2 separate regions of the Homo sapiens genome follow, and region 2 is linked to region 1. A link means that fine-mapping ties the variant in region 1 to the expression of a gene that starts in the linked region. Tissue or cell type: whole blood. Region 1 holds a variant in brackets; the other region holds the start of a gene. All regions are shown on one strand. Distances are from middle to middle.

Region 1 (8,000 bases):
CGTCTTTGCTGTCATCGCTGGTGGCTGGCCAGGTCTCCATGTTTGCCTCAGGGGCCTCTGTGCTTCTGCTTCTATCTCCTTTCCCATTATCCGGGTTCCTGCCAGCACAGAAGGAGTTAACTCTGCCAAGGCACCCCCCCCATTCTGGCTCCTAGCTCCCTCCCTCCCTCCCCCTGCTTCCTCTCTCCTCCTCTCTCCCCTTCCCTCTTCGGCTCCACGGCTCCCTCGGCCGCTGCCGTTTCCAACCCCCCCACCCCACTCCCCCGCCACGGCCCCTAGCCCCTGGCCGTTTGGCAAGACCCCCCCCTACCCCGGGGCTCCCCGAAATCCAGTTCCCCTCCCCCACCCCAGCTCATGCCCCAGCCCCCGAACTCCGGGGCTGCCAGCCCCCGGTGCCCCCGCCCCTCCTGAGAATCGGGGTGTGCTCCCCAAGCCCCCTCCCCTCCACTGGGGAGCCCCTTTTAGGGCCCCCTTCCCCTCCCTCCCACGCTCCCCTCCCCTTCCCTTCTCCAACCCCCTCCTTCCCCTCTCACCCCTCCCCCCATCCTGGCCCCCCCTGCAAAAGTGGGGTGCGGAGGGGGGAGGGGTGAGAACCCACGGAGGGGAGGAACGAAACTCCGATGAAGTCAGAGCCCCTTACCCGCCGCCGCGGCCAGGCCCCCCAACATGGACTGTCTCTGTATAGTGACAACCAAGGTAAGCATGATGGGGGGGCTATAAACTGGGGGGAGGGTATGAGTTTGTGGGGAGGGGTTAGTAGGCCTTATCTGGGACTGGCGCCCCTGGAGTGGCAGCATCAGAAGTAAGATGTATTTGGGGGTCTTAATTTAGTTTTGGGGTTCACATCTGAGAAAATGCAGGATTTGGCCACAGGTGCCCCCTGGAGTGATCCCTTTGTACCTGTAGGGATATGGAAAATTTAGGATATTCCATGGTTCGGGGGGCCTGGCGGGTTTGGGGGTTCATCAGCGCTGTTTGAGGGAGACTTATTTAAGGAGAAGCCTGGCTCATAAGGGAGTCCTGCTGGTGTATGTGGGAAGGTGGGCTATGTTGGGGGGTTCCTCTTTCCTCCCCAGGGAAAAGCTGGCTTCCAAGGGCCTTGTCCAGTTTTGGGGGGCTCCTGGCATGGGGTAAAGGTTATTGGTTGTGAGTGCCTGACTGATCTGGGGGTGTCAGCTGGCAGGGAAGGGGTGGGCCTTCAGACTCTAGAACAAGCATCTCGTGGTGGCTGCATTTAGGGATGCTCTCTCAATTTGAGGGAACTGTTAATTTAGGGTTCAGTCATATAGAATGGAGGTAGTTGGAAGTTGTCAGAGGGCTGGGGCCCTGGCATGGGATCACCTGAGGGAATGGACCAGGTGAGGCAAGGATTTGGGGGTACTCCCATAGGAGGCAGAAGATTGCAGCAGCCGAGCTTGCCAGCCCCTGAGGAGGAGGATGAGAGGCTTAGGGAGAGAGGGGATTTGAGGAGGGGGACCGGGTGGGTGGTGCACAATTTGGGGGTGGCCCAAAGGCAGGTGCCCAATATCCCCATCTCCTCCCACACTGTATCTAGCCCTGATCAAGAGAGAGGGAGAAGAGCAGATGTGGGGACTGTTCCAGATACCCCTGACGCTTGGGATCAAGGTGGGGGAGGACACCTGGATTTAAGGGTCCCTGAGGGCTTATGACCGAAGTTACTGAGGTTACTGGGGTGAAAAGGTGTAGGAGGAGGGCAGGGCTGGCAGCGATGGGGATCTGTGCAAGAGTGTCCCTCTGGTTGGAGCCTGGCAAAGGCAGGAGATCTCGGATGGAGCACAGGCGAGCTCCTGGTGGGATGCAGATACCTAGGCTCTCCTTGGAGACTCTGGGACTGGAGAGCTGGATGCCTGGTGTGTGGAGGGAGGCTTGGGCGGGTGGCAGGCAGCTGGGGGCTGGGGGGTGGGACAGGAAGTGGGGGCCGGGGGAGGCGGGGTCCGGGTGAGTCACAGGCTGGGGAGGGGGTTATATTTAGTGGGAACTGCAGCTTTTCATGGGAGGGAGCTGAGGACACACATGTTCCCTGCCACAAACTCACACATGTGTGTACACATGCATTGTGCACGTGTGAGGATGGTTGGAAGAGATTGGGGGCTGAGGACCTTTAGATCTGGAGCCCCCACCCTCTCTCCACCAGGGCGACTTTCTTGTCCTTCATTCTGTGGGTTTCGGGCTTTCTCCCAGGCTGCCTCTTCCCCACATCCCCTGTAGTTTCGGTGGATTTTTATGCCTCAGTTTCTCTGGCCTGGTTTCCTCTGCTCCCGCTGTCTCCTGCCCTTAGGCCTGTCACTTGGCCTTAGGCTCCATGGCTGTGGTCCCCTGCATTCCAGGTGTAAATAGAAAGCCCGCTGGAATGTGTGGGCTCTGCTTCCAACACGTGAACACACAAATGGGAGCGAGGGTGAGGGGCTTGCCAGCAGGCAGCTATTCTGGGTGGGTGGGTGGCCTTATTCATTACCCACTCCAGACTCCTACTTCTTCCATGGAGCCCAGGGTTGAGCATCCCTGAAGGAAGGAGGCTTACAGAGCAGATCATGCATTTGGGGTTTACAGAGGCGTGGAGACCCAGGCTTGCCACATTCCTTGGCTGGAAAACTTGTCAGCCTCGGTATGGTGGGGACTCCAACTCCCATAAGGCCCCGAGGCACCAGATCCCTCAATGTTAGAGGGTTGCTGCCCATGGCGCTGTTGGGAGTTGTGGTTCATCTCTATCCAGGGCAGCCAGCGGAGGGTAGCCCAAGAGGAGCCTGCAGGGGGCACATGGCTCCTGCTTCCCCAAATGCTGGATGGGGTAGGGAGTGCTCAGGCTTTGCGGTCGTTGAGCTCCCCAGCTCTGCCTGAGTCTTCCATCTTTCATTGCCTATATTTAGACTCCTGCCGCAGTAATTTAAGGAACATTTATTGAAAGCCTACTGCGTGCTAGGCCCTGTGTTGTGTGCAAACTCCACTCTACAGCGATCACTTTGTCTTTCTTGGTGCCTTTATCTCTGCCAGAATCTCTCGTCTCTGAGCATCTCTTTCTCCCACTCCGCCCCCGTCCCTCCCCCTTTCCCCGCGCTGCTGCCGCCGTTGCCATGGTAACCGGCGACGACTGAAGCTGCGTGGCGGACTGGAGGGCCGGGCGAGGGTGGCGGAAGGCGGAGCAGAACAAGTGGGGGTGGGGATACAGTGGGGGAAAGACTGAGGCTATTTGCCAGAGCCCCAGGAGCGAAGCGGTTAAACCCTCCGGGTGGTCCTTATTGGGCAAAGCCGAGATGCCGGGGGCGGGGCAGTGTGGCCGACGGCCTCATTCATTGGCCGTCAGGGGCGTGGCGGAGGGACAGTGTGGGCGAGGCAGGGGGAGCGAACGGGCGGGAAGTGGACGGAGGCGTGGCCTCCCGGGCAGGTGGGTGGGGTCTGGCTTACTCTATCGAGGGAGGCAGCAACCTTCGGAAAGGGGAGGAACCTTGGGGCTGGGTTACCTGACCGAAATGAGGGCGGGGCTGACCTGGGATGGGCGTGGCGTGGCCCCCCGTGCGTAAAGGAGACAGGGTTTGAGGAGCTATTGTCCAAGTAACTTCAGGGCGCGGGGGTCTTTGGAAAGGAGAATCCGGGGGTTGGGAAGTCTGACGTCTCAATTTTCCTAAGATGGAGGTCTGTTCAGATTTCATCAGAGCACCCCTCCTACCTCAGCTCTGTGTTCCCAGGAGACGGTTGCTAGGCGACGGCAAAGTCCTTGATTGCTGCGTTGCCAGGCAACAGAGAAACGGAAAATGGAGGGAAAAGGGAAATGGGGGATGGGGAAGGGTCTTTATGGGCCATGGCGCCCACTGGTGGATAAGCAGGGCCTGCAGGTTTTCTATTCTAGAAGGAAATTTGAGTCCAGCCCCTTCCGCACTGACTCCTTGGATCCTCTGGTGATCCAAGCCTTCCTACCAGATATGAAACTAGGACATTGGGGGTCATCTTGGGGGCGCATGTAACAGATGCCGATCAACGGGGTCAATCTCGCTTGGGTGAGATTCTAGGGAAGTCGTCATTTCTACCATGTATGGGCATTTTATAGAAGTCAGCCGATTTGAGGAGACCCCTCACTGGGTTTTAAGAGCTGGAAGGGTGGGCGTTCAATGGGAGAATATTTGGAAGAGAGGCTTTCAGGTTAAGTTGTTTGGGAGAAAATGGAAATCTCTGAAGAGACCTGAAGGAGGCGGTTGGGAGTGTTCTGGACGATTTGTGGGTCATTGCAGATTGCCGGCCGTATCTTTGGTGTGTATTTTTTGAGGCCTGAGTGTGGAGAAGATATATTTGGGAGCAATCTTCCGACAAAGTTGGAATTCAGAATCGTGGAGGGGATGTTCTGGGCAGACAGAAAAGGGTGTAATCTATGAACCTCAGGGGTAAAGAAAAGGAGAGGAGGTGCCGGGTGCGGTGGCTCACACCTGTAATCCCAGCACTTTGGGAGCCCGAGGCGCGCGGATCATGTGAGGTCACGAGTTCGAGACCAGCCTGGCCAACATGGCGATACCCCGTCTCTACTAAAAATACAAAAAAATTAGCCGGGCGTAGTGGCGGGCGCCTGTAATGCCAGATATCCGGGAGGTTGAGGTAGGAGAATCACTCGAACCCGGGAGCCGGATGTTGCAGTAAGCCGAGATCGCGCCATTGCACTCCAGCATGAGCAACAGAGCGAGAATCTGTCTCAAAAAAAAAAAAAAAAAAAAGAAAGAAAGAAAGAAAAGAAAAGGAAAAGGAAAATACTTTTAATTAATTAATTATTAATTTTTGAGACCGAGTCTCACTCTGTCGCCTAGGCTAGAGTGCAGTGGCACGATCTCGGCTCACTGCAATCTCTGCTGCCCAGATTCAAGC[C/G]ATCCTCCTGCCTCAGCCTCCCTAGTAGCTAGGATTACAGGCGCCTGCCACCGCGCCCGGCTAATTTTTGTAGTTTTAGTAGAGATGGGGTTTCACCATCTTGGCCAGGCTGGTCTGGAACGCCTGACCTCATGATCCAACCGCCTCGGCCTCCCAAAGTGCTGGGATTACAGGTGTGAGCCACCGTGCCAGGCCAAAATTTTTTTTTTTAGAGATGGGATCTCACTATGTTGCCCAAGCTGGTGTTGGGCACCTGGCCTCCAGCGATCTTCCCGTCTACATTTCTTTTTATAAGAGTTTTGGAAAAAATTGACGAGATTGCTATTTAATTTGGAGGGTCTGCTTTAAAGTAGATTAAATATTTCCTGAAATTGGGTTCTGGTGTGGATTTGGAGACTGGCATATTAGGAAGTCATGAGTATCTTATTAGATTCGGGGGTTTGGACAGGGGATCCCCAACAAATTAGAGGACTTGTTATTTGGATGTTTATATTAGAGCAAGAGTAATATTTGCACTAATTGCAACATCCCTGTTAGTGGATTGGGAGATAGATGTGATATAGAAAGGGATGATTTAGCATATATTAATTTGGGGGGCCAACAAGGCTCTGTGGTTCCTTAAACTCTTGAAGAAACATGGGCTGCCTATCAGGTGGGGCTGGACTGCAGGGGAGAACTATGCTGGTTAGAGTAGGAGATGCCTTGGAATCTGAGGAGATGCTATCCACAGCACCAATCTTGCGGGGGTTTGGTGGGAGAGGCAGTGTAGATCCCTTGGGGGTTCTTGTGAGAGAAGTGCTGTTTGTTTCCCTGGACTCTGGGAGGCCAGTAGTGACGAGATGTCCAGTGAGGTTTTGGAATGGTTTGGGGTCTCGCGATGTTGGGGTTGGGGGATTAGATGGGATGGAATAAGGGGTCCCTGAGAACTAGAGAGATAAACTGGTAAATTTAAGTCTGTCTTTAATTGTAGAGGGGTCGGAATAGAAGTATACTGTGGAAAGTGAAGTTCACAGAGAAACAGCGTGAACCAGGGAAGTTGGTGGCTAAGAGGGTCTCCCCTCACCCCTCTCTCCCAACGTGACGCTCTTCCTTACTGCGCAGGCGCCGTCACCCCCCCCCCCCCCCCGCCGCAGCCTCCAGTTGCCGCGGCCGCCGCAGCCCCCGCCCCTCTGCCCCTCCCCCTCCCCCAACCCCCGGGACCCTTGATATCCCACCTACCCCCTTCCCTCAGTCCCCCTCCCCTTCTCCATGTCGGCTCGGAACAGATTCGCCTCCATGTGTCTCTGCGTGGTACGTGCCGCGGTATGGGCTCCGGCCCGCTCCCCCTTCCCGGACCCCCGCAAATATCAGGGTGCAAGCTTCAAGCGCTGTCGCTCTTCCTTCTGCTTGGTGCGGGGTCTCTGGGTTGCAACTTCTCGTGGACAGGCGCCGTGGGTCGCCCCTCTTATCATTCACTTTGACTCACACCCCTATGTTTTGGGGGTGCAAGCCTCAGTTCCAGGTCATTCTGTGCAACTGGGGCTCTGGTGAGGAGGGGGCCAAAGGGGAAGGAACAACAGCGACTCCGTCCGTGTCCCCCATTCCCCAGGCCTTTTACTTGTTTTAAGCCCTAATATATTGGGGGTGCAGATATGTCCCAGTAGCATCTGAGTTGTCTGGGTTAGGGCCCTGAGTCCCAGTAGGATAAAGGATGGGGGGGGTCCTCCTTTCCCGTCCTGCTTTAGTTGCCCTGTAATCCAAGACTGAGAGGTGCTGATCCCCCACCGCCCCAGCCCCCCAGTCTGCAGTTTCAGAATTACTCTCCCCCGCCCCCACCCCCACCCCTCCCGACGTTTCTCCCCGCCCCCCTACATGTACGTCGAAAATTTCCAGAGACTGAACCTAGTCCCTAACCTCTTCCAGCCACATTCTGGAAACCCTGGCACCCATTTCTTGTTCCCCATTTTCTCCATGTTGCCTCCCAATCCTGAGGAGCCTTTTCTTCAGTGCCAGACACCACCCTCCCTCCATGGGGGTGGGGCAGGGAGAGGTATTGGGGGCTCGCTGAGATAAAAGTTTACCTTCATTTCCTCCCTAGAATAAATGATGAAATGGCCCTCCTCATGTTTCCATTTTCTTTGGGTGCACGCTGACATTTCCTCCTCAGATTCAGGAATTTTCTCTCTGAGGTGGAGTGAAGATGGAGAGGCACTGGACTCAAACCCTCCCCCAGACTCCAAAACTTGGAGCTTTGGTCCTAATTTACCTTGCAGGGAATTGGAGGCCTTGTGAAGGAAGAGTGGATAGCGGAGAGCGGCTTCCACCCCTTCCCCCAGGTCTCAATTCTGGGGCTTGCCCCTCAGCTTGTGCACTGCCCAGGTAGAAGACCACCTTCTCAGGATGTGGAATGAACAGTCTCTGTTGGTTCATAGAACTCCTTTATTCAAGACAGCTCAGCCTTGGAGGAGGGCTATTTTGTGTGTTCTCCTATTTTCCTTCTCTACTTTTTGTGCCCATCGGATTGAAATCTGGAGTTCAGGATTCTCTCCAAGTCTGTGGCCCAGAGAATAGACTCAATCTTGCTGAGCCCGTTTTCCTTCTTTAAGACTCTTTAAATGTATCAGGGTGCTTCTTGATTTGAGTTGTCTCTGTGTTCTGGGTTTGAGAGTTTTCGTGCTGACAGGACCACTTCCCTTCTCCCATTCTCTTACTGTACCCTTACTCTACAGCCAAAGTTGTGTTATATTCTCAGCCTTGATTCATCATCTTTAACATTTTCAGAATCCTACTCAAGGATTGGCCATTGACCTTGATAAGCTTCCTCCCATTTGATCTCGCAGCTGCTGCCCTCTAAGTATTAGGGCACTCTCAGCCTCTCAGAAACTTTTGGGAGGGAAATTCTGCTCGCCCTCTCTCTTTTTTGTTTTGGAGATGGAGTCTCACTCTGTCGCCAGGCTAGAGTGCAGTGGCATGATCTCGGCTCACTGCAACCTCCGCTTCCCAGGTTCAAGCAATTCTCCTGCCTCAGCCTCCCATGTAGCTAGGATTACAGCCATGTGCCACCACGCCCAGCTAATTTTTGTATTTTTAGTAGAGATGGGATTTCACCATGTTGGCCAGGCTGGTCTCTGACCTCAGGTGATGTACCCACCTCG
Region 2 (8,000 bases), 28 kb before region 1:
TCTTATATCATTTTTTTCATTTTTAAAATTTATTTTTGGCTGGGCACGGTGGATTATGCTTGTAATCCCAGCACTTTGGGAGGCCGAGGCAGGCGGATCACGAGGTCAGAAGTTCGAGACCAGCCTAACAAACATGGTGAAACCCCATCTCTACTAAAAATAGAAAAAACTAGCCAGGCGTGGTGGCGCACGCCTGTAATCCCAGCAACTCGGGAGGCTGAGGCAGGAGAATCGCTTGAACCCGGGAGGCGGAGGTTGCAGTGAGCCGAGATTGCACCATTGCACTCCAGCCTGGGTGACAGAGCGAGACGCCGTCTCAAAAAAAATAAATAATAAATAAATAAAAATAAAATTTATTTTTATTTATTTTTTGAGATAGGGTCTCACTCTGTTCCCAGGCTGGAGTGCAGTGTCATGATCATAGCTCACTGCAGCCTCGATCTCCCAGGCTCAAGTGATCCTTCTGCCTCAGCCTCTCAGTAGTTGGGACTACAGGCGTGCACCACCATGCCCAGCTAATTTTTTTATTTTTTATTTTTTTTTGAGACAGAGTCTCGCACTGTCACCCAGGCTGGAATGCAGTGGCGTGATCTCGGCTTACTGCAACCTCCGACTTCCAGGTTCAAGCAATTCTCCTGCCTCAGCCTCCCAAGTAGCTGGGATCACAGGCACCTGCCACCACGCGCAGCTAATTTTTTGTATTTTTAGTAGCGACGGAGTTTCACCACGTTGGCCAGGCTGGTCTTGAATTCCTGACCTCGTGATTCGTCCGCTTTGGCCTCCCAAAGTGCTGGGATTACAGGCGTAAGCCACTGCCCTTGGCCAATTTTTTGATTTTTAGTAGAGAAGGGATCTCATTATGTTGCCCAGGCTGGACTCAAACTCCTGAGCTCAAGTGATCCTCCCACCTCGGCCTCTCAAAGTGTTGGGATAACAGGTGTGAGCCACTGCGCCTGGCCAAGTGTGTTTCAAGTGAGGCACAATGGCAGTAAGCTTGACTAGAAGCATCAATAGGTATGAGATCTGGTGATTAAAACTTAGTTTCGGAGCATAAACCAGGAAAGTTTTACTTAGGTTGTTGACTTCCGGTAGTGGGAGGCATATATTTTTAACAATAATTCCTCCTTCCCTCCAAGAAGAGAAAAACACCGTCTCTCTTGAATTCTGTTTCTTCTCATCTGCATTTTCACCCACCCTAGACAATGCCATCCCCATCAAATCCTGGTTCAGTGACCCCAGCGACACAGCCCTTCTCAACCTGCTCCCAATGCTGGATGCCCTCAGGTAAGGGAAGTGGGCTCTGGACACTTGGATATCTCAAGAAAGGAGGAGGTGGGGGATCCTCAGAGGGAATAAAAAAGGTTTGTCCTGTTTTAACTCTGTTCCCTTAAGAATTTAACATTTGGACCCAGGTCGTCTTACTTCAAAGCTCATCACTTTAGCTAGTAGGCTGTGGGCAAATTGAACCTATCTAATCATGAATATGGTGATAATTTAGGTCCCACATCTCCAGTGATGCTGCCTTACAAGAGTGTTGTGAGGGTATGAACTATAAGGTACTCTACCAATGCAAGTTATTGTCACCCCAGGTTCACCGCTGATGTTCGTTCCGTGCTGAGCCGAAACCTTCACCAACATCGGCTCTGGTGACAGCTGCTCCCCCTCCACCTGAGTTGGGGTGGGGGGGAAAGGGAGGGCGAGCCCTTGGGATGCCGTCTGATGCCCTGTCCAATGTGAGGACTGCCTGGGCAGGGTCTGCCCCTCCCACCCCTCTCTGCCCTGGGAGCCCTACACTCCACTTGGAGTCTGGATGGACACATGGGCCAGGGGCTCTGAAGCAGCCTCACTCTTAACTTCGTGTTCACACTCCATGGAAACCCCAGACTGGGACACAGGCGGAAGCCTAGGAGAGCCGAATCAGTGTTTGTGAAGAGGCAGGACTGGCCAGAGTGACAGACATACGGTGATCCAGGAGGCTCAAAGAGAAGCCAAGTCAGCTTTGTTGTGATTTGATTTTTTTTAAAAAACTCTTGTACAAAACTGATCTAATTCTTCACTCCTGCTCCAAGGGCTGGGCTGTGGGTGGGATACTGGGATTTTGGGCCACTGGATTTTCCCTAAATTTGTCCCCCCTTTACTCTCCCTCTATTTTTCTCTCCTTAGACTCCCTCAGACCTGTAACCAGCTTTGTGTCTTTTTTCCTTTTCTCTCTTTTAAACCATGCATTATAACTTTGAAACCAAAGCGGCCTTAGGTCCTTCTCTGGGGTTTTGGGAAGTGAAGAGAGGGGACTTTGTTCACATGCACCCTGTCCCACAGGCAGAGGGGGAAGAGACTGCTGTTGGACTCAAGGGGCAGGGGGAAAGGTGGCGTTGAGTATAGGGATAGAATAATGCGGACACCAGATGCCTGGGATACAATAATGCTGACACCAGATGCTTTGGCGGGAAGGGCCGAGTGACAGGATGGGCGCGCTGGTGGGGAGTGGAAGGACACCTTCGGAGAAGCAGGCTATGGAAGCACGAAAGGAGAAACCGGCTATGGAAGCACGAAAGGAGAAACCTGGACGGCCAAAGGGCGTAGAGCTGGAGAAACCGGGCTTCGTCCGGGGCACTGACGTGGACAGGTTAAGCGGGCGCTGCCCCCAGGTGGCTGGCGCCCCGACCTCCGCTGTCCGGGAAGGCGTCGGTCCCCCTCCCAGCTGTCGCCCAGCCGGCCCCGCCTCCCCGGCGCCCTCCCAAGCCGGCCCTACTTCGCGCACCCGCCACGTGACGCTCCGCCCTCTTTGAGATCACATGATTTAACTCAAGTCCCGCAGTGTTCCTCCGCGCTGGCGTAGTCCCTACCTTTCCAACCTCCTCTCCAGTCCCTATTGGTCTACTCATTTTGGCACTTAAGCGTTCTGTAGATCTCTCCAAACATCTGTTTTCTTTTTGACTTCTTATTTCTGGAGATCATCTCCGCCACTTGGGTACTACTTTGTTTTGGTGTCAACGGCCGCCTTCAGCGTAGCAACACGGTTCGTGAATAGCTAACCTTGTAATTGTCCCTGCTGTTCCTCTACGTTGTTAACGAAAGGAACTTGGAGAACCAAGTCTCGTATGATGATTACCATCTTTTACTCCTCTTCAGCCCCAGCTTCCTTGAGGGGACGGTTGGGGAATAGGTTTAGAGTAATTTTCGATGAGCAAAAGCCAACCGTCTTTGCTACGTCGCCTGCGTAGCCCACAAATTGATTCCAAAGCGATTACGCTAATGGCGTGAGGGGGCCGGTCAGTTGGTGGTGCTACGCTAGCAGCGTTAGCGCCGCTGAGGTAGTGGCGTATCTTAGCGGGGGGGGCAGTCCCCGATAGTCGGGGGCGGGGTTGGTGAATAGGGAAGTGGCGCAAATTCGTGGATCGCTCCGCTGAATCCGCCCGCGCGTCGCCGCCGTCGTCGCCGCCCCCCGTCCCGGCCCCCCTGGGTTCCCTCAGCCCAGCCCTGTCCAGCCCGGTTCCCGGGAGGATGAAGTTCGTGTACAAAGAAGAGCATCCGTTCGAGAAGCGCCGCTCTGAGGGCGAGAAGATCCGAAAGAAATACCCGGACCGGGTGCCGGTGAGGACAGTAGCCAGGGCCGAGGGCGCGGGACGCTTACGCTGACGCCACAGCCTGGCCTTGGATCGGGACAGGCAGCGCAGGGATCAGGCTGCTGGCTGTGGTGGGGTTGGCAGCGAGCCTGAAACTGCTGTCCTTGGGACCCAGGATGAAAGGAGTGGGGTAGTGGTGGATGTGGGGTTGAGAGGGATGTGGACAGGAGAGAGAAACCTTAGCATTTGAGGCCTTAGAGAGTTTGACAGCCTGAGCTTCAAATGGTCATCCCCCCAGCTAGCTAAGGTTGCGAGATTGAATCACTAGTCGACCCAAACAAGTCACCTCCGTCTGATTAAGATAGTTGTTTATGGTGACGCCCTATTGGGGGATGGATCCTGGATATTTAAATGAGCTCCAGTCAGTGAGGTCAGGATCTCTGGGACTCAGTGCTGCACCGCGTGTACAAAGACAAAGAGATGAATCTGGGGTAGATTTAGGTGCTAGGAATATTGTTTCTTGAGTTCTTGACAGGTGCAGCTTCGGGGCTGCATTCCTTCTGTCTCCTAATTTTCATCTCTTTATCAGGTGATAGTAGAAAAGGCTCCCAAAGCTCGGATAGGAGACCTGGACAAAAAGAAATACCTGGTGCCTTCTGATCTCACAGGTGGGAACCTGATCCAAGACTCAGGCTTGCTTCCTGTGGGTGGGAGTGCAGTCTCTGCGGGAGGAGGCTCCACCTAGCAGCTGTTCTTTTGAGGGCATTTTTGACCTCTGTGACTTTCTTGCATCTTGTATCTTTTGCAGTTGGTCAGTTCTACTTCTTGATCCGGAAGCGAATTCATCTCCGAGCTGAGGATGCCTTGTTTTTCTTTGTCAACAATGTCATTCCACCCACCAGTGCCACAATGGGTCAGCTGTACCAGGTATGGTGACTGGGAAGTGGTGGAGGCTTTGGAGAGGAATCTTGGAAGAGCGTGAGGGGAAGAAAGTGTTGTTACATCAGTAGTTTTGGACTAGCTTCCTGGCTTGCCTTAAAGTTTCATAATAGCCGTGGGTTGGGGGTTTGGACAGAACAGTAGGAGTAGAGAGAAGGAAAGAGAACAGTGAGCTAGAGAAACTATCTGTTCGGGACTCTTCCCAGTCCCCCTCCCCATTCCAAAGCAGCAGAAAACAGTTTGAGGCCTTTTTGCCCAGGACTGCAGAGATTATACTGCTCGTGTGGTAGGCCTTGGAGTCAGTGAAGGAGTCAGGCAATGGTTTGTGGTTCTAGAAGAACGTGTCTGGGTCGTGGTTGGTTTAAGTTACTGGAGCCCAGTTGCTGAACAGTTTTCTGCTTTCATCCCAGGAACACCATGAAGAAGACTTCTTTCTCTACATTGCCTACAGTGACGAAAGTGTCTACGGTCTGTGAAGCTGCTGCCCCTGAGCTGGAGGGGGGTCTCATTCTACAAAGAGAGAGGTGGCCCCCCTTTCTTGACCTCCTCCTCCTTCAAGCTCAAACACCACCTCCCTTATTCAGGACCGGCACTTCTTAATGTTTGTGGCTTTCTCTCCAGCCTCTCTTAGGAGGGGTAATGGTGGAGTTGGCATCTTGTAACTCTCCTTTCTCCTTTCTTCCCCTTTCTCTGCCCGCCTTTCCCATCCTGCTGTAGACTTCTTGATTGTCAGTCTGTGTCACATCCAGTGATTGTTTTGGTTTCTGTTCCCTTTCTGACTGCCCAAGGGGCTCAGAACCCCAGCAATCCCTTCCTTTCACTACCTTCTTTTTTGGGGGTAGTTGGAAGGGACTGAAATTGTGGGGGGAAGGTAGGAGGCACATCAATAAAGAGGAAACCACCAAGCTGAACTGAATTTTGCCTTGTGTTGCTCCCCTCGTCCCGCTGATTTTAAGTCTTTCCAAGGTGTCAGTGGGTTTCAGTGGTGGGGAAAGAAGAGTACTGGGTACAAGCTGGAGGGATAGAAGTATATTTTGGTTTATTCTGTTCATGTTGGGCTTTTCCCTGTCTGCAAAAAGAGGGTGCTTTTGTTGTGATGGAATGGAATACTGAGGATTATTTCTTGAAACTTTAGTTTTATAACACGCATGTGAAACTAAATGTTAAAAATGCTCATGTAAAAAAAAATTTTTTTTTACTGTGGGTTCCTGTGGAGAAAGTTCCGAAGTACCTGCTTTAGGTGAACATCCACATTTGCTAGAACATTCTAACTAAGATATTTTCATGTGTGCAAGCTAGTAAAACGGCTGTTCTCAGTTGCATGTCACTTGGCTAGACTTTTGCCGGTGTGTGGGATCCGGCAGAGTGGAATCAGGGAGGGAGAAGACTGGGAGCGGGAGCCATTATCGCCAGGAATACTTCAACTCCCAGCAATCATTTCTCCGGCAGGCCGGAAGTGGGGCGGTCCTCCTGGGGAGAAAGAAGCTGCAGAACGAGGCAGTATGGTGGCCGAGAGTTCTAATCCCTTCTTCCTCTTCTTTCTTGGTCCCGCCCAGCCTACATCTCCCAGGGGCCTGCGCGCGCACTTCCGCTCTCCCCTCCGGCTCCTGGTCTCCCCGCCGCTCCCCGGGGGAGGGGAGCGGCTTGGTGCGCCTGCGCCAGCCTGTGGCTTTCTGGGAATCAAAGTTCCGGAGGTTCATGCGGTCCCTTTTCCGCTGTTCCCGGACGGACTACAAAACCCTTGGTGCACTGCGCCTCGGCGCCGGCGGGGGGAGGAGGGAGAGAAGAGGAGGGAGGGAGGAGAGAGGAGGTGGAGGAGGAGGAGGAGGGAGCAGGCGGCCGGCGGCGCGGGGGGAGGGGGCCCGGTCCGGGAGTGCGGGAGGCAGTGGTAGAGGGAGGTGGCGGCAGCGGCTAGCGGACTCGAGTCTCAACCGGGCTGAGGCGGACACTTCTGTGGAGCGAAGCAGTGGGAGCATCGAGCACTAGAGGCGGCACCGGGATCCCCGGCTCCGGGGAGGGGGGCGCCGGACCGGGAGGAGGGGAGGGGGCGATGCTGGAAGCCATGGCGGAGCCCAGTCCCGAAGGTGAGCTCTCGACCGGTGCAGAGCGCTGAGCCGGCGGGGGGCGGGCGAGGAATCAATTGGCAAACTTGGAGGTCGAGCCCCGGAGCCCAGCGGGGGAGTTCGGGGAGGGGGTCGGGAGGCTGGCCCTGGAGGTGGGAGAGCGACGAGTTGAGAGACCTTGGAGAAAGAGGAGTGGGAAACTGGGCTGGGGTAGTTGGAGATCAGACGGTGTGGGGGTGCGGGGGATAGGAGCTTGAAACCCGGAGCCTCGGGGGTTAGGGCCCGAAAGGGCCACCGGCAGATTGGGGCCCTGGAACTGGAAGGTTAGGGGAATCCAGTGGCCGGAGAGTTGCTCAGGAGGGAGGACGTAGAAGAGGCTGAGTGAGGGGCCCGGTAGTTCGCCGAGGTGGGGTAGTTTGTGGCGGTGGTACCGGAGCTCCGAGTAGTTGCCGCCGGAGAATGCCCGGTGATTGTCGGAGAGGTGGGCAGGTAGTTGTGGGGAGAAGAGGGGGTCTGGGTATTGTCTACGGCAGACGGACCTGTACCGGGGGGTAGTTGTGGAGAGAGCGAGCCAGGAAGCGAGGCGAGCTGGGTAGTTGTAGGGGGTGGTGGGGCGGGGTGGGGGGGGTTAAGACCGGCGACTTGTCGGGCGGGGGGGTAGGGTTGGTCCGCGAGGGTTAAGAGCCTGGGAGTTGCTGAGGGTGAGGGGGGCATCGGCGGCAGCAGCGGTGGCTGCTGTGGAGAGAGAGAGAGAGTGGCTGGTTGGGGGGAAGGGGCCAGAGTTGAGGGGTCCATAGCCTAGTAACTGGGTGGTGAGTACGGGGGCGGAGGGGGGGGCGGCGGCCGGAGAGGGCTAGGAACAGGGCCGGGGGGCCCGGTGGGGAGCCCGAAAAGCTGGAGACGGGGAGGGGCCAAAGCCCCGGATGGGGGCGGAGGGACGGCGAAATTGTGGGGAGCGCGGTATGGGCGGGGGGGGGGGGGCAGGTGGGGGCCGCGTCCGGGTTAGAGCTCCCGGGTCTGTCCCGGCCGTGAAGTAGCGTTGGATGCGTGTGCCTGTGTGTGTCTGGGGTGGGGGTGAGGGGCGCGCCGGGCCGCGTGCTCGAGTAGAAGGGGCCGGAGGGCGGGGAGCGGTTCGGCGTGGTCATCCTGGACCCTGGGGGCTGGCGGGCGGCGTGTGCGGTCTCGGAGGGCCCGAGGCGGTGGAGCGCGGCCGGGTAGGAACTCGGGGCTCCGGGCGCGTGTGAAGGACGGGGGCGGCTGGCGGCGGCCCGGACGCGGCCCCGGGAGCGGTACGGTGGGGTGGGGCGCTGAGGGATCCGAGTAGACTGGAGTCGAGAGAGACCGTGAGTTGGGGGGGCGGGGCGCCGGGCCTCCGGTTGGGGGAAGGGGAGCGCTATAGCGAGGCCTCAGAGGGCGCCGCGCCCAGGCTCCG

Evidence for each region. PIP is the estimated chance that this variant, and not a neighbour inherited with it, causes the effect.
Region 2: GABARAP starts here. The variant in region 1 is fine-mapped to the expression of GABARAP in whole blood (TOPMed, PIP 0.96).

What each region holds. Positions count from the first base shown.
Region 1 is chr17:7,209,814-7,217,813 of GRCh38, reverse strand. DLG4 (discs large MAGUK scaffold protein 4) reads left to right here and starts at 187. Exons shown (of 20, transcript NM_001321075.3): 1 at 187-696. The coding sequence starts at 667. It also overlaps a transcript of ACADVL not described here. RefSeq lists enhancers at 1,857-2,835, 3,210-3,504, 5,756-6,270, 6,271-6,785 and a silencer at 3,223-3,462. The variant C/G (reference allele first, on the strand shown) is at 4,867.
Region 2 is chr17:7,237,835-7,245,834 of GRCh38, reverse strand. It overlaps GABARAP (GABA type A receptor-associated protein), which reads left to right and starts at 3,386. Exons shown (of 4, transcript NM_007278.2): 1 at 3,386-3,594; 2 at 4,156-4,234; 3 at 4,375-4,493; 4 at 4,916-5,827. The coding sequence starts at 3,505. The coding sequence ends at 4,981. It overlaps PHF23 (PHD finger protein 23), which reads left to right and starts at 6,378. Exons shown (of 5, transcript NM_024297.3): 1 at 6,378-6,589. The coding sequence starts at 6,556. CTDNEP1 (CTD nuclear envelope phosphatase 1) reads left to right here. Exons shown (of 8, transcript NM_001143775.2): 7 at 1,200-1,284; 8 at 1,590-2,244. The coding sequence ends at 1,650. RefSeq lists silencers at 2,624-2,733, 3,324-3,513, 6,111-6,250, 6,301-6,480, 7,631-8,000 and enhancers at 3,126-3,677, 3,678-4,229, 5,911-6,000, 6,128-6,777.